2 linked regions of the Homo sapiens genome follow. Each later gene encodes a partner of the first gene's protein in a complex. Each region holds a gene or a part of one and is shown in the gene's direction. Other genes may lie near its edges. The genes, in order: VPS41 and VPS39.

Region 1 (13,224 bases):
GGCTCACGCCTGTAATCTCAGCATTCTGGGAGGCCGAGGTGGGTGGATCACCTGAGCTCAGGAGTTCAAGACCAGCCTGAGCAACATGGTGAAACCCCGTCTCTGCTAAAAATACAAAAATTAGCCAGGCGTGGTGGTGTACACCTGTAGTCCCAGCTACTCGGGAGGCTAAGGCAGGAGAATCACTTGAGCGGGTAGGCGGAGGTTGCAGTGAGCCAAGATCCTGCCACTGGACTCCAGCCCTGGTGACAAGAGTAAAACCCTGTTTGAAAAAAAAACAAAACATTAGTTTGGAGGCAGGCAGTTTAGAGGAGCGTGTTGGCTTCAGTCATCAGGGACCCAGGCTTCTCCTATCTTTCTGCTTCATCCTTAGAATTTGGTTTTCATCCTCAAGGTCACTTGTGGGACCTGTGTGGTTGCTGGAGAATCTAATGGCAGAAATGGTGAAAGGGGTATCCCCAGATGTCTGTTCCCCTTTAATAGACTTCCCTGAAAGGCACACATAACATTTCCACTTGTATGTCATTGACCAGAACTTAATTACATAGCCATGCCTAACTGTGATGGAGACCAGGAAATGTCTTTTATTTAAACATATTGCTGCCCCTAATATTTTAGGAGTTCTTTTACCAATAAAGTAGAAGTGAATGGATATTAGGCAGGCATTTAGCAGTCTCTGCTACAACTGCCTGTGGAATTATACACAAATTTATATTGACAGACTCTAGCACCATCCTACCTAATTGGTCTTGTATCTGACTCTTTGGATGCTATTCCACATCTTTATGTCTCTTCCTTTTTTTTTTTTTTTTTCTGAGACGGAGTCTTGCTCTGTCACCCAGGTTGGAGTGCAGTGGCAGCCATCTTGGCTCATTGCAAGCTCCACCTCCCAGGCTCATGCCATTCTGCCTCAGCCTCCGGAGTAGCTGGGGCTACAGGCACCCGCCACCACGCCCAGCTAATTTTTTGTATTTTTGTAGTAGAGACGGGGTTTCACCGTGTTAGCCACGATGGTCTCCATCTCCTGACCTCGTGATCTGCCCGCCTCGGCCTCCCAAAGTGTTGGGATTACAGGCGTGAGCCACTGCGCCCGGCCTATCTTTATGTCTCTTCTTATACTGTTCCCTTTACCTGGAATATTTTCCCTTTCCTCTTACCATCAGCCTCTTACCTATCCTTTAAGGAACACTTGATGTGCTGCTTGAAGTCATGTCTGATCTTCCCAACTGATTTGATCACTCCCACCTTCAAACTCTCACACAATGGCTGACTTAAACGTCCCAGATACCACTTTCTTTGTGTCATTTCACTGCTCTAAATCTTCAATATCTTTTTATTTGCTCATAGAACAGGTCTGAAACGTACTCAGGTGGCAAGGCACCAAATAGTCTAGTTTGAGAAAGCACCATGAATGGAAAGATGTTCAATTAATTAATTGATTCAGTCAACAAATATTTATAGTGACCCTATTATGCACATACACTGTGCTAGGTGCCTGGTACATGTTTAAAAGTAAGAAGTTGTCAAAGCAAGCTTTATAGTTTCTTTCTGATTTTTTTGGTTGGGATTTATTTACTATTTTTATGTATTTTTATGTCTCAGTGCTTGTTTATAGCTAAGCAATAGCAAAAAATCAAAGATTTCAAGAAAGCATATGTGAAAACCCTAAATAAAATATTTTACCCATTAATCAATTGATTTCTTTCTGTGAATTGGGAAAATAAAGTGACTATTTGATTTTACCAATAAAACCCCTTCGTGCAAATCAAGGCACACTAATTTCACAAGAATCTAGCAAGAGAACCACCACAGTGAGTCTAAACTTTACCTCTTCAAAGTTCCCTCAAATCTATGTATTTCCAAAGATTCTCTCTTAGGTTGTAATACTACACAATACTATACCTCAAGTATCAATTAAAAGTAATGGCAAAAACTGCAATTACTTTTGCACCAACCTAATATATGTTGAAGACCTCAGATTATTTACATCCAGCACCAGACTCCTCCTAGCTTCAAACCAAATAACCAAATATCTACTGAACATTTCTTTTACAAGCCAAATAGGGAAAAGATCAACTTTCCCACAAAAGATGGGTAAAGAGCAAGAGTAGAAAGGACAGAACAAAGTTGAAAATGGCCAGTAAATTTATGAAAAACATCCCCTCATCAGAAATCAAAGACATACAGTTAAAACAAAAATTAAAATATTAATACTATTTTCCCCAAGCTAAATTAATGAAATGTGTAAAAAATGATAATATCTAATGTTTGATGGTAGGAGGGTTTAGAGCTCTCATATATAGCTCACTGTAGAATAAATTGTGAGAGACTGAATATATAAAGGGGCACTGGCCAGACCAGATATTAAAATAGAACTCTGACCCACAGTCTGAAGCAAGCTGCAGCAATTGCCCAGGAAACCAAGCCATTGTCCACAATAGAAAACCCAGGAATCTAGCCTGACAGTCAAAACTGCCATCTCTAGTAACAATCCAGGAACCTTAACTATAACCTCTGAAACAATCAGCCTAAAATGACCAGGACTTTATTGGTAGTTGACAACTTCCTTAATTTTTACTCCCACTTCCAACTAAGAGCAACCAGAGAAAACCAAATATCCACCCCTACCAATCACATAGGTTGCCCCACTTCTGGTTACCCCACCTGCAGCTTTCTCATGCCAGCAGCCTCCAACCAGGGCCTACCTGAAGCCTTCCCTTTTCCTACCTTCCCACTCTTGTGCCTGTGTTTGAGTCTCTGCCACAGCGCAAGTGCTGGTGGCTGACTCCCTTTCTAGAGTAAGCTCTGAATAACTCCTCAATGGCATTTCTCATTTGGATGATCTTTATTCCTGCAGTTGATACCACCTTGCATTATAGCATTTTCCAGAATTATGCACAGGGATGTTAATTAGATGTACTTAAAGTATACAACAAAATAGAATGATTATATACATTACTTTTCATACGATGGAATTATAATGTGAAATCATGTTTTATTAAAATCATGTTTTAGAAGAATATTTTACAAGATTGTTATTGGGAAACAATCTTGAAATATGACTAAGTAAAAAAAAATGACAAAACTTGGTAATATGATCTTTGTTGGACAAGTTTTTAAATAAATACAGAGAGACAGAGAGGGGAAAGGAGGAAGAGAGAGAAAAAAGAGAAGAAAAAAGAAAGGCATATATCCAACAATCATAATCTAAGTGGAGAAATCATGAGTGGTTTTAGAATTTTATTTTATAATTTATTGTATTTTTCCAGTTATCTATTATGAACACATAGTACTTTTGTAATTAGAAAAATGTTATTAAGAAAATCTAATGTGGTTGCTCAGGGAAATTTCCAATAAGCTATATCTTAAAATGACATTTAGAATATTAGAAGGTAACAGGTTTCAGTAGGTACAGTTTTGGAAAAACTAAACTGCAAAATAAGCTGAGGCTGGCCAAATTTGCTAAAGATAACATCAATATTCTTTTAGCTATTTGGTACAGTTAATTAAATAAAGGCTAAGATTGTAGCTTGGAATTAGTAGTGTAATGTGGTGTAAATTTGCTTGTCATTAGCTGTCACACCTGTAGATTGAGAAAGGTAGCAATCTAAGAAGGAATGGAAGCTGAAGATTGGGAAAAGAATCTACAACACATCCCCTAATTAGCAAGGGCATAAGAGTGAATTATTTTAACTTTGTCCACTTTGCCGATTTTTCAAGTTTCCTGAATTTATAAATGCTATTTAATAATGGAAAATATTAAAGCCGTTCATATTGTTTAAGCAATGAAATAATGCTATTGTCACGAATAAAATGGCTATAATTTGAGTTAGTAAACTGTTTCAGACCTACGAAACAAACATATGAGACAGATCCTTGAAACCAGTGAGCCACTCTACAAATATAAGGTCTTAGGTCTGTTTTCTGAAGTCTATTAACAATTTTAGGTCCTATAGACTGAGAATGAGAAGTTGAATCTTACCTTTACCTCCATCTGCATTTTTGTTTTAGTTTTAGTTTTTGTTTTTGTTTTTGTTTTTTGAGACAGAGTCTTGCTCTGTCACCAGGCTGTAGTGTAGTAGTGTGATCTTGGCTCACTGCAACCTCCGCCTCCCGAGTTCAAGCGATTCTCCTGCCTCAGCCTCCCGAGTAGCTGGGATTACAGGCGCACACCACCACGCCTGGCTAATTTTTGTATTTTTAGTAGAGACGGGGTTTCACTATGTTGACCAGGATGGTCTCGATCTCTTGACCTCAGGGGATCCGCCCGCCTTGGCCTCCCAAAGTGCTGGGATTACAGGCGTGAGTCACTGCGCCCAGCCCTTTACCTCCGTATCTTGAAGTTGGGAGAGGGTGGACTGAGCAGGTGATTTGACACAGAATCAGTGACTGTTAGGCTGACTACTCCTCAAACTTGAAAGTATATGCATATGACTGAGGGATACTATTAAAATCCAGATTGTGGTTAAATACATCTCTCAAAGGGCCCCAAATTCTTCATTTTTAACAAGCTCCCAGGTAGTCTTTGGACTACACTTAGAGTAGTTGGAGAATACAAGACCACCTAGATAAGAGAGCCTCAAACTCTCACTTCACATGAGCAAATGGGATTTGGAGGTCACATGTGAATTTCATCCTGTCCACTGTCCCAGCACGAACCTGCTAGTTCATAGTAGGTTTCTTCCTCTAATTCACCTTTCCATACCTGTGTCTCTTCACTTTTCCAGTCTCTCCAAAAGGAAAGAGGCTCATAATACTTTATTGTAATCAAGAGAGTATACTGAATGCGGAACAAACTTGGGGAATTGAGAGTTTCTACGGTTAAATGAGCAGAGGAAAACCTATAAAGTCTGGCTATATCTTTAATAAGACCCATAACACCCTTCTTGAGAAAGAGAATAAACATTCTCATTCCAGAAAAGTAGAAAGGCCAGGAAGGCCCAGAGTGGATGGCCTTCAGCTTTGCTTGCTTGGGCTGCTTGACTTCTCACCAAAATAAAATGGAACCATAAAACAAAAATGACCTTGTGGTTAAGACAGTGGTAATAATCCCTTATTTTCCTTCTTCATCCCAATCTCATCCATTCAGCATAGAAGAGGAGATTGCCCAGTTGGAGAGGCTGTAGTCCTAGAGGTTTATGGGTGGCTGTCACTCATAACAGAAAAGAGAAAATTGGAGTTTGTGAGGAAAGTCAGAAAAGTGGAAGAGCTCATTTTATTTCTCTTTCCCGTGGATACTCGACTGAGGGCTTCCACAGTCTCTTTGGTCTGTATTAAAGTTTTTCTGGGATCTGGAGTTCATCATGAGCAATGTTTGGCCCTGGGCTGCTTTGCAAGAGATTTTAGAAACTCTTGGGTTAGGTTTATACTTGCCCTAGGTTTATACTTAGGGCATTGGGTGCTTGCTTATGGATTTCTTTTTTCTTTTTTCTTTTTTTTCAGATAGGGTCTCACTCTGTTGCCCAGGCTGGAGTGCAGTGGCACCATCAATGCTCACTGCAGCCTTAACCCCCACCTCAGCCTCCTGAGTAGCTGGAACTACAGGCGCACACCATTATGCCCGGCTAATTTTTGGTATTTTTTGTAGAGACAGGGTTTTGCCATGTTGTCCAGGATGGTCTCAAACTCTTGAGCTCATGAAATCTGACTGCCTTGGCCTCCCAAAGTGCTGGGATTACAGGTGAAAGCCACTGCACCTGGCTGCTTATAGACATTTAAATGCCTCAGGGTGGTCTATCCTGTCGGCTGAGTGATTAGCCCACTGGAAGAGGAACCCCAGCAAGGCTTGGAGGAAGAAGATGGAGGTAAGGCTGTTTAGGCCCTGGGGAGAAGACAGGTGTCTCAGAGATGATGTCACCTTGGCTTCTGGGCCATTGAGGAATCATGGGTTGAGCAAGCTACAGACAGAGTACTGAGTCCATGACTTCCTACTGGGTCAGAGTCAATGAGGCACAGGGAGTCAAAAAAGGTACTGAGGCAATCACCACATGCTGCCATTTGCAATGCCCTCTGCTGGTCACCAGCTACTCCAGTGAATGGAAATTGTAAAATGTCTGTCTTTGGACAAGGTGCTGCAGATTCCTGAGGGTTAAGAAACAGAATTCATAATGTTCAGAAACATGGAGAAGGAATCAGTCATTCTGAAGGCTGGAAGTAATACAGTGGTTGTGCAGATTTTGACCAAGGACAACTTCATATTGTGTCTTCACTTGAACATTTACCTATTGAATATCCTCAACAAAAGTTTAACAATTAATTTATTAAACAACAGAGATTTTTTTTAAATCAATGTTCATATGACAGGAGAAGACAAAGTAGCAAGCAAAAATAATGATATTATTTGTTGGCGTATAAATTTTCTCTGACTCTCCACTGCAAAGACTGCTTTATATTCACTGAATATACTTAAAAAAGAGAGAGAAAAAAGGACAAGAACACTTTTAGAGTAAGCAGCATTTGGCAATCACAGAGACTTTGGCATCAGGCAGGGCTGAATTCTATTACTAGTTCTGCCTCTTACTAGCTGCATGACCTCTGAGCTACGGTATTCTCCCCTATAAATGGGGATGATAGTAGGAATTGCTGTGAGGATTAAATGAGATAATTTATGCAAAGCTATAAACCCAGGGCATGACATAGTAAGTGCTTAATAAACACTAGAATAACTAGAGAAACAAGAACAACAATAAAATAAGCTATAGTATTAGCAATGGTTATGTTCACATCCTTCAAAGCAGAATTCCATTGAGTTTGGAGAATTGGCAGCAGAAATGAACCCTAGCAGGTCCGTCCCCTAGAAGAGATTTCCAGGCTCAGATGAAGCTAAAACTACATTTCCCAGAAGGCCCTGGGCCAAGTGTGTGGTTTCCTCTTATTTCCGGGTCTGTCAGGTGACTCTCCCGTGGCGCCATGGCGGAAGCAGAGGAGCAGGTAAAGGGTGCAGGTGGTAGTTGAGGGCACAGGGATATAGAGACTAGGGTGGGCTGTTTGGGGAGGGTGGAGTGGAGTGGGTGGAGGTGCGGAGCTGCTGGAATAGCGCAAGGCAGGTCCGCGGCAGGGCGGGGTGGGATGGCGAAAGTTGGTTTCGGGGAGCAGAGAGGATGCCAGCCCCGGGAGGGCACCTAGGGAAAGCGCTCTGACACACCCCCGCGTTCGGGCTGCCTTTCCTCGGGCCCCATCCCTGTGGCCTTTGCCCAGGGAAATTTTGGCATGAAGGCAGGCCCGGCTACCTCAGGGACTGACTGCCTGTGGGAGGAGGAAGAGAGGCCGGGTGACTGAAATTTAAGTTGCTTTCCACTTGAAGTAGGACAATAAGAACTAGGAGAGAGTAGACGATGAGTTTTGTTTTGTATCTATTGGAGTTAGGTACAGAGCTGGAGCACTGTTGCGGTGCAGCAGGGATTAAATGCATCCGTTCTGGAGCAAAAATGCCTGGGGTCCAAGTGCTGGTTCCTTTTCTTACCCAATGTGCTACTTTGAGCTACTTATTTAACTTTCCAGTGTGAGATGGGGGTAATAATAAGGCCGTCCTCAGAGGGTGGTTTAAGATGGAGAGAGGAGTTTATACACAAAGTTAGAGTACTTAGAACTGTTGGGCTTAGTAAAAATTAAATGGGATTATTTGTTGCTGGTAGTATCCAGTCAACAACTGGCAACGTGGCACTGAAGTTTAGGGTAGAAATTGGTGATGGGAATATGAATTATTTTCATATAGCAGTAGTGGTAATCACACATTTTATGAAATGACGAAGTAAAATAAAAAAGACAAAAAAGAGAAGCAGACCAAAAAAGAGGCTAGAACTTGGGGGAGATAACTTAAGTTTCCATTTCCAGTGTTATTTCAGTTGGATACTGTTTTTCTTCACAAGTTAACAGGGCTGTCAGTTGCAGTCATTGTCTCTAAACAGTGACTTGATGATGGGCTGTTTAGTATCATAAGAGTCATTTACCTAGTTCAATAATTTTTACTATTTTCAACATACTTCATTTGTTTTTACTTCATAGTGAAAATTTGTTCTGTATATATTTTATATATGCCAATAATTGAGACGTTTGACTAGGTAGAAATTTGGTTTGGCTGGTCCTTGTGATAACAAGATAACAAAGTCTCTTATCTAACACTAGAGACTCCTATTTCCATTCTAGCAGTTCAAAGGAAAACACTCATTAAGAACATATCATTTCATGACTGCCATTGCTCCTTTGAATAAGGGTGAGATTGTTTTTCACATTGTGCATCTTTATTTCATGTTGAAATGTTTGTTTTATGGTTTGATTTGAAAGCAAAAAACTGAGTTTCATATGTTCTTAGATATAGTGGAATAGAAATGGAGAGAGTTGCTCCTAGAAAAACCATTGTTTTTTCTTCCATTGAAAAAAACCTATGAAATATTTACCACTGTTTAGTGCAGAAGAAGAATTTAACAAAGTTGTCTGATATAAAAATGACACATACAAAATTAGGGATATAATAATGTTTCACATTTGTACATTATTTTCTAGTTTTAAAAACCCTTCCATATTGCATTTGGTCTTCCCAAAAGAATTCTATGAGGTAAATGTTTACTCTCATACATGGGTGAAACACCTCTGATATTCTAGACTTTCCAGGGGCTTCTAATCTTATTCAGAGGAAAAGCCACAGCCATTACGGTAGCCTGGTTGTCCCACAGGACCTTGACCCAGCTGCCCTTAGCCACCTTTTCTTGACCTCATTTTTCCCACTACTCTCCTTCCCTTCTGTGACTCTGCATCAGCTGTACTGGCTCTCTTAGTCTTCAAAAAGCCAGGCAGGTTCCTATCTCAGGGCCTCTTTGCTCATGCTGTTCCTTTTTGAGGAACCCTGATATTTACAGGCTTCCTCATTTCCTTCATGTCTTTGTCCAAGTGTTCTTTTTCATTGCGACCTTCCCTGACCATGCTTTGAAACCTTCCTGCATTATTTTTCCCTATAATGTGCATCACCGTTTGACATACTGTATTATAAAATTTGTTTTTTTTTTTTTCCCTGTATATTTCTGTGTACCTCTTACCACAGAGCTTGGAACATCCTGACAAGGATTTGTTCACTGCTGTATGTCCAATACCTAGAATATTGCTTGTTACTTAATAAATTTGTGTTAAATGATTGACTTTTACTGATAAACAAATTGAAATTCAGGCAACTTGAGTAACGTGCTCAGGCTTATATCTATAATATAATAAATCTCCAGTCCTCTGTCTCCATAGCTCATGACTTTTCACTAGAATACCCTACCTTTTTAAAATATATGTAAGAACCTAAATCTAAATAGTTTTTTTACTTTATGAAGTAGAATTAGCCCTTTCCATTTTAATGATTTTCCCTCAAGCCACCATTCCACTTTGATGCTTTAACAGCCAATATGTAGTTGGAGTGGGCATTCTCCTCTCCAGTGGTGTCAGTATCTTAAAAAGACTAGTCGTGGACCAGGCACAATGGCCCATACCTGTAATCCCAGCACTTTGGGAGGCCAAGGTGGGGCGATTGTTTGAGCCCAGGAGTTCGAGACGAGCCTGGGCAACATAGCAAAACCCTATCTCTACAAAAATTACAAAAATTAGCCAGGCATGGTGGTGTGTAGTCCCAGCTACTCGGGAGGCTGAGGTGGGAGGATTGCTTGAGTCAAGAGGGTCGGGGCAGCAGTGAGCCATGATCGTGCCACTGCACTTCAGTCTGGGCAACAGAGCAAGACCCTGTTTAAAAAAAAAACGAAAAACAAACAAAAAAAAACCCAGCAGTCTGTTGTAAATGGCTGAAAGACACATTCACAAATTGTTCAGTTCTTTTTTTTAAAAGAAAGTAAGTAATTGTACCTAATCTTATCCTTTATAGATTAAAAATGGTTAGGCTTTTCTCTGATTTGTTTTTGCATTTCACAGTAGGAAGCCATTGAAATCTGATGACGGTAGTAGGGCTTTATTATACCATTTTTTTAAAGCTAAAAGTGTATAAAAATGGAGAAAATAGGGCTGCGTGCGGTGGCTCATGCCTGTAATCCCAGCACTTCGGGAGGCTGAGGCGGGTGGATCACCTGAGGTCAGGAGTTCGAGACCAGACGGGCCAACATGGTGAAACCCCGTCACTACTAAAAATACAAAAAAATTAGTCAGGCATGGTGGTGGGCGCCTGTAATCCCAGCTACTCGGGAGGCTGAGGCAGGAGAATCACTTGAACCCAGGAGGCAGAGGTTGCAGTGAGCCGAGATTGTGCCATTGCACTCCAGCCTGGGTGACAAGAGGGAGACTCCATCTCAAAAACAAACAACAACAACAAAAAAACCCCCAAAAATGGAGAAAATAACTGTTCTATTGAACTTTTTAGAAAACTTGGCATACATTTTTTTCTTGGTATCATGTATCATAAATGCCAGTAATCTCCAGGATTAGCAACACAAAACTAAATGTCTCCACATTATCTTTCGTGAGTGTTGTTTCTTTGGTGATTGCTCCCCTCCCCATTTATTTTCAGAAGAACCAAAATAGTGACATCTGCACTGAGTTATTGTGGTATAAAACAGCTCAGAGGATCTGAAACTAAAACCACTTTTTAGGTATGAATGAAAATTTTTTTATAAGTCACTGGGAAATTCTTGCTTTTGCCTAATATGGTAAAGGTAGTTGTCAAAAGTAACTACATATATATTTTATAGTTTACAGAAAAAATGAATACCCTGCATTCTGCCTGGAAATCTTCTAACCAGCAGTTTTGCTTAGCTCCAAAACGATTTATAGTTGACCTTCATATTCACAGATGCCCAACAGTATTTGTCCATATCTTTCTTATGAATAACATTCTGCTTGAAGTCTGGTTGTTTGTGTATTTGTCTTATCTCTCCTAGAGATTGCTGAGTCCTCAAGAATAAGAACAAGAACTTACTCATGTCTGTATCTTCCACAGGGCTAGTGCTTTATAGGTACTAAGTGTTTAGTAAAGTGTTTAAATGAATTTATTAGGGGGAAAATAGCATTTCAAATTGTCAAATTGTATATTAGTAGGATTTGCGTGAAATTATTTTATCTTACTTGCACCTTTTTTAAGTTATTAATTCAGATGTAATGTGGATTACATCTATACTATAATGTAGGTTACATTCTATACTTTCTTTACTCTTGCCTGCTCCCCAGGTACCCTTTGATCTTCCTAATCAACCAACCTGGACCCTGGTCCATTAAAGTATTTCCACGATTAGACCATCTATTTCTTAATCAAGTAGGAGAGTTTCTACTTTGAATTCTCCTTCTGCATTTTAGAAATTAGGGGAATTCTGTCCTTATTGTAGATCACTTATGGATTATTAGATGTCATATTTGTCATGTATATCCCCATGTGATTATGTTACAATAAAAATCAAATCAATACAAATTTGAGTGCTTCGATTTTCTTGCCTGTAACTGGGAATTTTACTCTCTAAAACTTTTGTGAGTATGAAGTATGTTAAAACTTTTGTGAATATAAAGTATGTTAAAGTGGCTAGGTTGAAATGGTTGTATAAATAAGACAGAGGTTAATCATCGAAACCTGGACTTGGCTTACGTATGCACAATTCTCTTTTCTTACAGTTTGGCTAAGATAGATATTTTAAAGGCAGTGTTACTACTAACTAAAGGAAAAACAAAACCCAAACAAGAAGTTTTAAAAGTATAGAATCAGACAGATTTTAGAGGGTGCACTCTTTCCCATCATGTAACTAAAATGTAGTCACAGATTAGTTTTGCTGGACTAGCGGATTGCTTTGTTAGTTTTTCCACTTATCTTCACCTGAATTGGTCGGCTAGAGGCCACTTCACTAGCTGATTATTAGTAGCCTCCGCCGCGCCCACATTAACACCTTGGAGAGAGGACACTCATCAGATCAGGGGCTTCTGTGTCTCATGCTACTTCCCATTCATGGCTGTGCAGTCCCCTGTTGCCTTTGTTTCTTCTTGATGCCTGGGCCTCCTTATGGTTTTTTTGTTTTTGTTTTTGTTAAAAATGGCTTGTGATTCCAGGCTCTTATTTTAAACCTACTGAATCAGAGTCTGTGCAGATGGAGTGTGTTAGTGGGTATTAGCTAATTCCCCAAACTGAGTTTTGATGATTCTCATGCAAAGGCAGATTTGGGACTGGGTCACCTGGTTACCAAGTTTGCCCTCTTTTCCACGCTGGGGCACACGTCAAGATTTTTCTTCATTTGCAGAATAAGATGAGTGCAGTAGCTGAGCCCAGTAGGCTGAATGGGCTTGGTAACCTGAGTCCTCATCTTTACTACTCAACCAGCCTAGTCCCTGAGTGTCTAAAGCTGGCCACAACTCCTTTGAGGTTTTTTAAATTGAAGCTCTGTGACAACAGGGATATCACATACATACCACACAAAATATTTCCTCCTTCCTGTGCCTATATCAGACAGTGCCTATATCAGAACTCTCTTTCTCATTATGCTCAGCTAGGGCGCATAGTTTGTTGGGAAGACAGAGAAGGTGGCAGTACCTCAGTGAGTGTTCACATGTACCTCCAGGCATAGATGGAGATAGATGATTTCTTGGAGCCTGGTCTCTGCTCTTTTTTTTCCTGCAACACAGACCCAGGTGAGCCCTCCTGCAAAGTTTGGAGTGGCCTTCCTTAGGCCCCAGGCTACCATTTCTCCCCCAAATTCTGTTTTTCTTCCCCAACAGTATGTGGGCACTTACAATTCTGAGGACTTCACAACCCAGGCAAGTCCTGGATCCTCTCTGTCCTGGGCTGACAGTCTTCCTTTTCACCACTCCTGACCTCTGAGGCCAGCTGGGCCAAGCCTTCTCCCAGGCCATTGTCATAGGGTTCTATGCTGATGGGAGGATTAGGGATGGGGGCTGGTTGAAAGCCTGTATGAGAGAAGTCTTCTAGGAGCCCAAGGAATTGTTGGAATTGCTGCATTTGTTGGAAGGTGCTACCTTCCTGCAGTTCCCTTTCTGTAACTGTCCTACAGTTCATAAGCTAATAATTCAGACATGAGTCTGGAGAAAATATGCTTGGTATTGCTCATAAGGGAAAGGCAACATATGGAGGAGGAAGAATTTGTTTTAGATTGGCAGCTTGTCTCATCATCATCACCAGCAACATGTTTTTCCAGTAGGATACTGGGAGACAAAGAAGGCAAAGCCTTTGGGTTTATCCACAGCATATTTAAAATGAGAACTTGTAGGACAAGGCAGTTAATATTAGGTGCTAGCTGAGGGGTACGGGAA
Region 2 (12,557 bases), on another chromosome or scaffold:
TTTCAGTCAGCAACGGACCACATATATGACAGTGGTCCCATAAGAACCTCCGGGTTCACGCCATTCTCCTGCCTCAGCCTCCCAAGTAGCTGGGACTACAGGCGCCCGCCACCACGCCCGGCAAATTTTTTGCATTTTTTTAGTAGAGACGGGGTTTCACCGTGTTAGCCAGGATGGTCTCGGTCTCCTGACCTTGTGATCCACCCACCTCAGCCTCCCAAAATGCTGGGATTACAGGCGTGAGCCACCGCACCTGGCCAATACTGAATTTTTACTGTACCTTTTCAATGTTTAGATAACTTTAGATACCCAAATACTTACCATTGTATTCCAGTTGCCTTTGGTATTCAGTACAGTAACATGCTGTACAGGTTTTTAGCCTAGAGCAATAGGCTTATACATATAGCCGAGGTATGTAGTAGGCTATATAACATCTAGATTTGTGTAAGTATATTCTGTGAAGTTCACACAGCTATGAAATTGCCTAATGATGCAGTTCTCAGAATGTATCCCTATCATTAAGTATACGTGACTGTATGTAGTATGCAAATATTTTCTCCAATTCTGTAGGTTGCTTTTCATTCTGTTGTGTGCTTCCCTTGCTGTGCAGAAGCTTTTTAGTTTGATGTAGTCCCATTGGTCTGTTTTGCTCTTGTTTTGTGCTTTTGGTGTCTTAGACAAGAAATCACTGCTAAGACCAATTTCAAGAAACTTAGGTTGTCTTCTAGGAGTTTTGTGGTTTCAAATCTTATGTCTAATTCTTTAATCTATTTTGACTTGTCTAAGTCTTTAATCTATTTTGAGTTGATTTTTGTGTATAGTGAAGATGAGTTACTTTCATTCTTTCTCATGTGAATATCTAGTTTTTCCAGCACCATTTGTTGAGGAAACTGTCAGTTTCCCCACTGTGTAGTGTTGTCTCTCTTTTCGAAGATCAGTTGACCATGTATGTGTAGTTTTATTTCTGGGCTTTCTATTTTGTTCCACTTGGTCATAGTATGTGATTCTTTCAACGTGCCGTTAAATTCTGTTTTCCATTGTTTCATTGAAGATTTTTGCGTCTGCTCATCAGGGATATTGGCCTGTCGTTTCTCTTCTTGTCATGTCTTTGGCTTTGGCATTAGGGTAATGCTGGCCTCATAGAATAAGTTTGGAAGTTCCTTCCAAATAAATGTTTTCGTCTTTAATTTTTTTGAAAGCGTTTAAGAAGGATTAGTGTTACTTTGTCTTTAAGTACCTGGTAGGACTCAACTAAAGAAGCCATCTGGTCCTGGGCTGTTTTTTTGTTGGGATGTTTTTGATTACTGATGGAATCTTGTTGTAGGTCTTACCAGGTTGTGTGTTCCCCCCCCGGATTTTCTATTCCTTGATGATTCAGTCTTGGTAGATTGTATACTTCTAGGAATTATATATTTTGTTCTAGGTTATCCAGTTTCTTGGCATATTTTTAAAAATGTTTTGTATATTTTTATTGAAATTCTTACTTTGTTCATGCATTGTTCTCCTGAGTTCGTTGAACATCTTCATGATAGTTGTTTTGCATTCTCTTTCAAATAATTCCTATACCTCTGTTTCACTGGGGTTGGTTTCCAGAGATTTATCTTCTTCCTTTGTTTGGGCCATGTTTCACTGATTCTCTATTTTCCTTAATTCTTTGTGTTGGTTTCATTGCATTAGAAAAAAAAACAGTTACCTTTCCAGTGTTCATGGACTGGCATTGTACAGGAGAACACCCTCATCAATCATTCTGATAGCCTCTCTAACCCACTCTGTATTATGTCTTTTCTGGACTTCTGCATATGTATTCCCAATCAGAGGGATTTGCTGGGTTTTTCCCTCCCCAGGAATTTATAATCTCTTGCTCCCTTTTGTGTTTATCTGCTGTATCATGGGTCTCCTGGAGCCAGTGGCATAGCCCAGCTCTTTTTTTGTTCATACTGGCCCCAGGCACCTAAAATATACTGGTCCCATCTGTGCTTCAAACCATTCCCTACAGAAACCATTCCCTCAGGTAACCTCTTACAAAGTTGGAACATTTTCACAGTCCATCTCTCCTCCCTAGGGAAAAGCTAGGATTTGGGGATGTTGGGGATTCTACCTGCTTACTCTGCACTGAGCTGGGGGAGCGGCTGTAGTGAGCTCATGCTTGCTAGTCCAAACTTCCACTTTGATTTCAGCAACTTCCAACCTGGGCCCTTTGTTTTTAGCTCTCGGACTCAGGCAAGACAGAAAACAGTCTCTCGTGCAGGTTCCAGAAAAGTCAGAATGTTGGATGTACATTCCAGTCATTTCCTTCCCTCTGCAAAAAGAAGCTGGGAGCTGAGGGTTTCCTCTCTATCATGTGGTACTGTGCTGGGTCCATGGGAAGGGAAGAATTATGGCAAGAGGGTGCCTCAGGTTTTTCTGCCGACTTTGATTCAGCTGGTTTCATGCTTTCCTATAGTGCAGAAGACCCTCAACTGGTTTCTGGATTTCCCACAAAGGGAATTTTTCCATGTGTTATTGAATCAGTGTGTCTGTAGAGGGAAGGAGTGTCCAGGGCTTCCTATTCTGTCATCTTGCTGACATCACTTTCTCCAAGGCCTTTTTTTCCCTTAAAACTGAAAAAGACCTTAAATGAATTACAGGAGAAACAATTTACATGATGGACCAGGAATCAAAATGGCATAAGGCTCTTCAACAACATCTTTGGGAGCCAGAACAAAGCCTTTGAATTCTGAGGAAAATCATTTTCAACCTAGAATTCTGTACTCAACTAAACTATCATTATGAGGGTAAAATAAAGATGTTTCTAGTCACACAAGAAGTAAAATAATTGATGTTCTATATGCAGTTTCTGAAGAAAGTAGGGGAAAATGTTCTCCACAAAAATGAGGAAGCTAGGAAAAAGACTTGGGATCTAGGAAATAAAGGGTCCAACACAGAGACAAGAAAAATTCCCAGTATGATGTAAGAAATTCTCAGGTTGGCAGCTGGGCACCAGGCTTGGATGGAGTGGAGAACAGAGAGCATCGGAAAGGATATTTTTAAGAAAAAGGGAAACATCTATAGATTATCTGATGTGATTGATTATATTCAAAAAGGATTTGTAGTTCTGTCAGTTTGTGATACAATAGTGAGAGGTACTTCGCAAATGAAGCAAAAGAAAAATGAAAATTAACTCTAAGGTATAAAATTGCCTAAGAAGGGAAATTTAAGGGTAGTACATTAATTATTTTAATTGAAATGGGATACTGTAAATACTATATTAAATTAAATGTAATTTTATTTTTTACATGATTTTTAAAAAGTGTAGTAAAAAACACATAACAAATCAACCCTCCTAACCATTCTAAAGTGCAAAGTGCTAACTAGGTGCACGTCTTTGCCCTCATCCTTCACTGGGTCTTCAAGTGAAATTCCTGAATTAGAGGAGTTACACATTTTTATTAAAGCCTAATCTTATGTAAATATTTGTTTACATAAGATCTTAGCTGACTCTATACATTTCCTTCTGAGTGCTGATTTTCTGTCCAGAAGCCTAGAGCTTTTGATTTAGTTGTTCTTGGGTGAGGTCTGGACATCTGTATGTTCAAAATCTTCACAAATGTTTAGGAACCATTTCTCTAAACATTTAATTAACATAAAGTACTCGTGGAAGATGTTTGCTTGGATAGTCTGTATAGAAGATATTTGGAATATAGATCATTTTAACCTAATATACTTCAACCTTTTTTTTTTTCCCTAGGAACGAATGATCACACACTTTGAAAGGTCCAAAATGGAGTAAGGAATGGGAAGATTTGCAGTTAAAGATGGCTACCATCAGGGAAGAGATCAGCATCTGTGTCAGTCTTCTGTACGGCTCCATGGGATTAAAGGAAGCAATGACATCCTGATCTGTTCCTTGATCTTTGGGCATTGGAGTTGGCGAGAGGTGTCAGAACAAAGAGAACATCTTACTGAAAACAAGTTCATAAGATGAGAAAAATCTACGAGCTTCTTATTTACAACACTGCTGCCCCCTTTCCTCCCAGACTCTGACATGGATGTTCATGCAACTTAAGTGTGTTGTTCCTGAACTTTCTGTAATGTTTCATTTTTTAAATCTGACAAACTAAAAAGTTTAACGTCTTCTAAAAGATTGTCATCAACACCATAATATGTAATCTCCAGGAGCAACTGCCTGTAATTTTTATTTATTTAGGGAGTTACATAGGTGATGGGGGAAATTGTTAACTACCTTTCATTTTCCTGGGAAGTCAAGGTTACATCTTGCAGAGGTTGTTTTGAGAAAAAAGGGCCCTTCTGAGTTAAGGAGCCATAGTTCTATCAATGATCAAAAGAAAAAAAAAAAAAGAGAAACTGTTACAGTATGATTCAGATCATTTAAAAAAGCAAAATCAAGTGCAATTTTGTTTACAAATGGTGTATATTAAAGATTTTTCTATTTCAGATGTACTTTAAAGAGAAATATTAGCTTAACTCTTTTGACATCTGCTATTGTGACACATCCCATTGCTGGCAATGTGGTGCACACTCCGAAACTTTTAACTACTGTTTTGTAAGCCTCCAAGGGTGGCATTGCAGGGTCCTTAGGCAATGTTTTGTTTGCCTTTATGCAGAGAGGTGCTCCAAGTGCTGTGATTGAGCACCGTGCTAGAGGAACTGTAATGCTTCAGAAGTTGTAGCTTATACAAAGGAAACAGGTCCTGCTGGCTTAATTTAAACAGTTATTGCATGAAGTAGCGTGGAGGCCCTGGACTGCTGCTCGTTCTTTAGGATGGACTGTTCTGGTATCTGGTATTGGTTTAGAGACTGTTAATAAGGGACATCACAAGGTGATGGGATTCATTTGAAGCACTCTATTTCTGTTTTAATGGTTTTATCCAATTTTGCCTTCCCAAGATTTTTGTTCTACATAAAAAGTTCATGCCACTTTTTAATATAAAAAAATTTAACAAAATTAATGTATTTTTCTCATTTTTTTCAAACTTTTTCTAAAGACTCTTTCTGTCAAACTCATGAAAAATTTCTTTCTATGGCTTTTATTCTAGATTGTCTTATTTTCTGTTAAAACCAATGACCACATGACCACAATCTTCACTAACTCATACTGCAGTGAAAGTGTTAACCCTTAGGTAGTTTCTCTACAACTCTTTGCTATGGTGATTTTTAAAAAAGTTTCCTAGGAAGTATCTCTGAGGAACAGCAATCTGAAGAACTGACTATATTCTCATGCTAAGTCATTAGCCAAAAGCTGGTGGTATTGTTGCATGCTGCTATTGCATATTAAAACGTAGCAGATGAATAATAGTTGTAATGCAGCAGGATAGTTGGTCAAATTATTTTTTTAGGCTGCTTTGATGTTGACTTGAGACTAGGAAAAAAAAAAGCCCATTGTGTTAAGCGGGAGTGTATAGTTCAAGTTCTATAGCCTGGGCCCTGATAATTCTACTTACAGCTTTCTGTATTACTGGGAATAGATATAGTGTGTCATTTCTTAGGTTCAGAAGAAATTGATAGCTTTGCAGTAATCTGTAAAACAATATAAACCTTAGGGTTTTGGGCCTGAACGAAAAGGTACTAGACCTTCCAGCACAACAGCTGGTAATTCTAAATTTTTAAGAAGGTGATCAGCTTCTATGGTGAAAATCAGCTATAACACAGGATTTGTGTAGCAATTTTCATGTTTTTGACTACTTGAAAGTACTTTTCACTTGATTATCAGAACAGCATTTGGTAAAGATGGGACAAGTATTCCTAATTTACATATGAAGAAACTGATATTGTGTAAAAATAAAATGACCAGGACCAGTTTTTTTGACTTCATATCACAGACTTACCCTTTTTCTTTTACATTTTTGCTTTAAACCCAAATGCTTAATTTTTTGACCTACGATGTTTTCCTAGGGGGAAATGACCAGATATAGATCATTCTTGCAGCCCAAACTTTGTTGTTTTTTAAGTCTTCAAGGGGAATACTAAGGTAACCGCAGACAGTACAGGTCCCAGGTCCTATAGGAGGAAAAGCCATGACACCTTCCTAAAGGAATATTAGGATGTAAGACACAGCTTTGGAAAGTTGAATTGGTAGGAATGTGGTCATCAAATTAAAAGGAGGCTTATTTCACTGACTTCCAAGAGTTAGTGAATCATCTCTTGCCTAAACTCTTGCTACTCAAAATGTGATCCAGGGACCAGCAACATCTGGGAGATTTTTGGTGCTCAACTGAGGGTCTTACTCTGGTCCTACTGAATCAAAAGAGGCATTTTAACAATGTCTCTAGGTGATTTGTATGCACGTTAAATTTGAAAAGCATTGGCCTCAAATGGTGGTTCTCAGGGTAATTTTGCCTCCCAGAGGACATACGGAAAAGAGACATTTTTATACCTCTGTGGGGAAGATAACTGGCATTTGGTGGGTGGAAGTTAGGGATGCTGTTAAACATCTTACATTGTACAGAACATGCCCCCTCCCCCAACAAGAAATTATCCTGTCCTAAATGCCGGTAGTGCTATCGCTGAACAACCCTAACCTAAAATGGTGGTTCTCAAGCTTTTAAGTGCATGGACTCACCTTGGGGTTTATTAAAACATAGGTTGCTGTTCCCTTCGAGTTTCAGATTCAGTAGAACTGGAATGGGCCTGAAACTTTGCATTTCTAACAAGTTCACAGGTGCTGCTGCTACTGCTGTTGTTGCTGGTCTAGAACCACTTTCAGAACCACTGGCCTAGAACAACCATGAAAGCATTAAGGTAAGGTGCTTGTACTAATTGGGATATAATGGTAATACTAAAGCTACCACTTACTGAGAGCTTAGTGGGTGTCAGGTGTTGCTAAGCGCTCACGACACTAGGTCACAGGTATTTACAAAAATTTTGCAGATTAGGAAAGTATGGCATCGAAATATTAAATTTTCTAAATCACAGCTAATTTCCTAATTGGTAGATCTCCGTCTGAGGTCGACGCCAAAGGCCGAGTTTTTAACCATCACGCCCACTGCCTAAAGCAGTTCTAAGATTAAGAGTTTGTTCCTTCTATGGTAAGCCCATGGCTACTCGGGATGGAGTAGCTATGGGTCCAGAGTGACGATGGCAACTCAGCAACAAAACAATTCATTTAGAGTGCACCGGGAGGAAGGGGCGGGACTTCGGCTGCGGAAGAGGCGGGCCTAACTAGCAGGAAGTCCGGGGTTGACGATGGCTGTGTTGTTGAAGGGCCTGTAGCCGGGGGGTTCCTGGCCGGATCCCGGTCTACCCTTAGCCCAGACTCGTTCCGGACCCCAGCCCGGCCCGGAACACTCTGGGCGAGACGGCGGTGGCAACTCTCCCCTTGCCGCCATGCACGACGCTTTCGAGCCAGTGCCGATCCTAGAAAAGCTGCCTCTGCAAATCGACTGTCTGGCTGCCTGGGGTGAGCCGAGGGGCCGCGGGGCCGAGGCGGAGTCAGCACAGGAGCGGTCCGGATCTTTTCTGAGGCCGGGGAAGTGGACAGGCGTCCATCCGTGTGGGCTTCGGTTGGATGCTACACGAGAGGGGCTTAGGATGAGAGAAGGCAGAGAGATGACCACCGGCTATAGACATCGATGTCTGTGGGGCTACTTGGGTGATCCCAGTGATCCAGTCATTTAGGGGAGTTCCCCTTGCTTTTGCTCTCTGTGCAGAGTGGGAGGATGAGCTTTCCTTTTTAGTTGTGCTCAGCTTTGGCCCATTTTGATTCCCACGAAGACTTCATTTTAGAGGGTCAAAGCAGTAAGAAGTTCTCAGCCTGCCAGGGGCTTGAAGTTGTCCAGATGTTTGTGTTGTTTTCTAGATGAAAGTCAACCCTGGTTTTGGGGGCATTGAACAAGTTAACACCATATGCTTTTTTTTCCCCTTAGTGATCATTCGTTCATTTCTCATTCCTGTAGGGAACTCATGTAGTTAGCTAACCTTTGAATCTAGCCAAGCGGTTGATTACCTTATATCCAAAGTGTCCAAGTTACCTAACTGTAGGCGGAAGAGTTTCCAGACTGTCTTGAAACCTAACCCATAAAAACTAGCATAGTCCTTTTGGGATTGACTAGTGCAGAAGGCCGGGACAGACATCTCTTGTGTGCTCTGAAATACAAATGAAGGTTTCAGGGATAACGGTGAACATTGTGCTCTTATCCGTGAGTGACTGGTTTGATACCAGCCGCCAAAGACCAAGGAAATCATTTCTAACTTTCCTCTTAATGTTTAGGTCCTAGAAATCAAGGACCATAAAAAGATGATTCAGATCCCTTAATCAGATCTTATACTGAGCTAGATAGGTAACCATGATGGGCCTTATGGAATCTTGGTGGTGTCTGATACCATGTGCGTCAGCTGTTCACAGTGTCACCGAGTCATCCTTGCAGAGTTCTTGATGACTTCTTCTGTAGGGTTCTTTCACGAAGAATTTTCATGTTAATGTGCACCCTTCCTCCTTTAGCAGCTCTGGGTCTCTTTAAAATCATACCTCCACAGTAAGCAGTTCTAGTCCTTTGGGTTAAGAGGAGAATCCTACTTCCTCCAGACATCTCAAGAAAACCAATTTCTGTCATTAAATGCTCTCATTAAACATTTAAATAGAGGAGGAGAAAAAGTTTTTAAATGAAAGACCTGACACTGCATGAAAGGATTAATTCCCCCATTGCTTCATCAGATATACTTATTAGGTGGCTACACGGGCCATTCTCTTTGCTTGGGACAGTAATACAATGATGAATAAGAAACAGTGCCTGTGCTCCTAGGACACACACTGGGGGACAAATACACGTGAACAGATTATAATACTAGAGACATATGCTGCCTATTATTGCAACATGGATGAGGGGGTACCCAACTCAGCTAAGGACATATGTTTCTGAAAGGGATTAATGCAGCTGTGGCTACACTTGACTTAGCTCGTCAGAATCCTTGACTCTGATCTCCTGTTGGACCATTAGCACATAGTGCTCCTAGACTCTCACCAACTCCACTTTGTCACAGTAAAGATTCCTTGCACCTGTGGTTTTCAGGAACACAGTTTTGAAACAATAGGTAGCTTTTGGCCTTCCTTGATCACCCACCGAACAGGAGAAATGCTCTTTGGTTCCTAAGGTGCTTAGGTACATATTAGGTTACAAGAGGCCATTAACTGCCTCCTGCTTCAAAAGTGCTTTATTTCCAGATTTGAGCAGCAGTAATTATTGCTCTTTCTAGTCATTACCCCTTTTTAACTACATTGTGCCTTTGGATGGAAAGTTCGTCCAGGAACTTCCAGAGGCAGGTCACACAGGGCCAAATAGTATTTGAGGTGTAAATGTCTTAGAGACAACATACTCTGTCTCCTGGGAAATAGAAATCAGGAGAGAACATGATGAGGATGATTTCTTTCTAAACTCCAAAGTTGTATAATCCTGCTGCCTTTTCAGCATCTTCATTTGGATGTCCAGTAGCATAGCCAAAACCGTTCTTGATTCCTCTCCCCTCAAACATGCCTGTCCTCCTGTATCTTACGTCTCAGCAAGTGGCATTTCTATTTACCTCTTTGACTAAAGCCAAAAGCTTTGGAATCGTTCTTGACTTCTTTCATTCTGTTTTACACTGTATCCCATCTATCAGCAAATCTTGTGTGTTCTACCCCTAGAATAAATCTGAAATCCAGTCATTTCTCTCTATCTTGATGATTACTACTCTTGAAGGCACCATCATCTGTCACCTGAATTACTGTAGTAGTCTTCTCATTGATCACCCTATATTTGCCAGTGTGCCATTTTCAGTTTTTTGTCTACCAGGTAGAGTGAAACTTTGAAAACCTAAATCTGATTCCATCCTCTACTCAAAACCCTCTCATGGTATCACATCACAACTAGAATAAGTTCCAAAGTTTTCACCCTGTCTGGCAACATCTGACATGATCAGGCCCTGATTTCTTCCCTGTCTTCTGTGTACTTACCTCTCACTCCTTTCTGGTACCAGTCCCACACAGCCTTCTTTGTTCCATCAATGCACAAAGCACATACCCACCTCAGGGCCTTTACATTTGCTGTTTCCTTGGCCTGGCACTCACTTGCCTTTGTATATATGGTTCATTCCTCATTTCACTCAGTTCTCTGCTGAAATGTCACCCAAATCAGCAAAACCTTCCCTGTGTATCCTATATAAAAGAGATTGCCACATCCACCAATGTGCTGTTTTCTTAGCCTTATCTTCTAATCATGGGTCACCATCTACTGTTATTTTATATATTTAATTATTATTGCCTCTCTCACTCCACATTAGAATATAAGTTCCCTCAGGGCAGTATCTTTGTTTTCTGCATTGCTATATCTGCAGTACCTAAAACATTTCCTGACTCAATGGGTATTCATTAAATATATATTTAATGAATAATGTTAATATGAATAGTAATAGCTTGCAGTTGTTAAATGCTAATCTGTATTAGGCTTTTATAAAATAAGACTCCATTTTACAGAAGAAAGACCTAAGGCTTAGAAAATTTAAGAAATTTTTCCAAGGTCACATGTCCTGTAAATCATGTCTGCTTCTAGAGCCTGGTTCTCAAACTTGAATGTATATTCAAAGCCTGTAAAAAATGCAGACTTCACATGTATATATGAGTATCTGTATGTCTATATATACATACATACCTATATTTTCCAGAGAAACAATGGAAAGATAAGTCAAAAATTACTAAAATGATGCCCATAGCAGAAGGGAGAAGAGAGGATAAAATGGACAATGATAGAAACTAGACTTTTCGTCGTTTTAGCTTTGGAACTACATGAATGTTTCATAAAAACAAATAAAATTTAATTTAATTTTATTTTATTTTATTTTATTTCATTATTATTTTTTGAGACTGAGTCTCGCTCTGTCGCCCAGGCTGAAGTGCAGTGGTGCAATCTCAGCTCACTGCAACCTCTGCCTCCCAGGTACAAGCCACTGTCGTGCCTCAGCCTCCCGAGTAGTTAGGATTACTGCCACCCACCACCATACCTGGCTTATTTTTGTAGTTTTAGTAGAGACGGGGTTTCGTCATGTTGGCCAGGCTGGTCTCAAACGCCTGACCTGAGGTGATCCGCCCACCTCGGCCTCCCAAAGTGCTGGGATTACAGGCGTGAGCCACTTTGCCCAGCCAACAAGATTAAATTTTAAAATGTAAATTTCAGGGTACCACTTCAAAGCCATTGAATCTGAATCTCCATGTGCAGGGCCCAGGAATGTGCATTTTTAATAAGTCCAGGTGATTCTAATGCAGCTAATTGGGGGCTTATGCCCAGATGAGAAGTACTGTTATTTGCCATGTTACCCAACGAAGGGAAGTGACTACTATCTTACTTATCTTTGTGGTCCCTGCAGTGGCCAGCATTGGGCCAGAAATGGAATTTATTACATGAAGTTGGACTGCATTGCACTGTTGGAAGGAGCTCCATTAGGGTAATTATGAGCAATAGGGCCTAGCCCTCCTTCTCAGGAGGAATTAAGTCCAACCTTGTGGCTCAGGGTTAGGCCGTCAGGAGTTTTTTAGGGCTGATACTGCTTTGCTTATGTGTGCGTTTTGTGTTTGCTTAGTATGTCTCACTTTCTGTTGTGTGTTACTGTATTGAGTCTCAGAAGGCACTGTCCATCCCATGCTGCGCGTGCTCTGCAGGCTTGTCATCCTCTGTGTTGTGCATGCACAGCTTTGTTAAATAACGTGTCCTAGAGAGTGGAGGACCCAACATGGGACAGGTCCTCTGGCTAATGGCACATGTAATCAATCAGGTTGATTTAAAAGTTTACAGAGAATTTAATCCATCGGATTGATTCCCTTTTATGACCAGTAGAATAGACATTTTATTTTTTTAATTAATTTTTTTTTTGGAGGCAGAATTTCACACTTGTCACCCAGGCTGGAGTGCAATGGCGCACAATCTCCACTCACTGCAACCTCCGCCGCCAGTGTTCAAGTGGTTCTCCTGTCTCAGCCTCCCTAGTACCTGGGATTACAGGTGCTCACCAGCACACCTGGCTAATTTTTTTTTTTTTTTTGAGACAGAGTCCTGCCCCGTCACCCAGGCTGGAGTGCAGTGGTACGATCTCAGCTCACTGCAGCCTCTCCCTCCGGGGTTCATGCAGTTCTCTTGCCTCAGTCTCCTGAGTAGCTGGGATTACAGGCACACACACCACCATGCCTGGCTAATTTTTTTTGTATTTTTAGTAGAGATGGGTTTCCACTGTGTTGGCCAGACTGGTCTTGAACTCCTGACCTCAGGTGATCTGCCCGCCTTGGCCTTCCAAAGTGCTGGGATTACAGGCATGAGCCAACCACACTCGGCCTAATTTTTATATTTTTTAGTAGAGACGGGGTTTCACCATGTTGGCCAGGCTAGTCTCAAACTCCTGACCTCCAGTGATTCGCCCACTTCGGCCTCCGTGCCCGGCCCCTAGACATTTGACTTTTTAAAATGTTTTGTCATGTCTTAGTTTGGGTTCACAAGAAAAAAAAAAAGTAAATTAAAAAATCTATTGGCAAGAAACATTTCAATAAAAATGGAAAATAGACTCTTGAATGTCATGTTTAGGAATTTGACTTCATATTTTGG

Evidence for each region.
Region 2: VPS41 (region 1) and VPS39 share a complex: the UniProt entries of both Homo sapiens proteins name them as parts of the homotypic fusion and vacuole protein sorting (HOPS) complex.

The regions. Positions count from the first base shown.
Region 1 is NC_000007.14:38,902,860-38,916,083, reverse strand, and holds the start of VPS41 (vacuolar protein sorting-associated protein 41 homolog), read left to right. Parts: upstream 1-6,892; 5' UTR 6,893-6,909; coding exon 6,910-6,930; intron 6,931-13,224. UniProt on the Homo sapiens protein: Plays a role in vesicle-mediated protein trafficking to lysosomal compartments including the endocytic membrane transport and autophagic pathways. Acts as a component of the HOPS endosomal tethering complex.
Region 2 is NC_000015.10:42,202,920-42,215,476, reverse strand, and holds the start of VPS39 (vam6/Vps39-like protein), read left to right. Parts: upstream 1-7,172; 5' UTR 7,173-7,323; coding exon 7,324-7,396; intron 7,397-12,557. Other genes in the region: TMEM87A (transmembrane protein 87A isoform 4 precursor), read left to right, coding at 3,728-3,769. UniProt on the Homo sapiens protein: Regulator of TGF-beta/activin signaling, inhibiting SMAD3- and activating SMAD2-dependent transcription.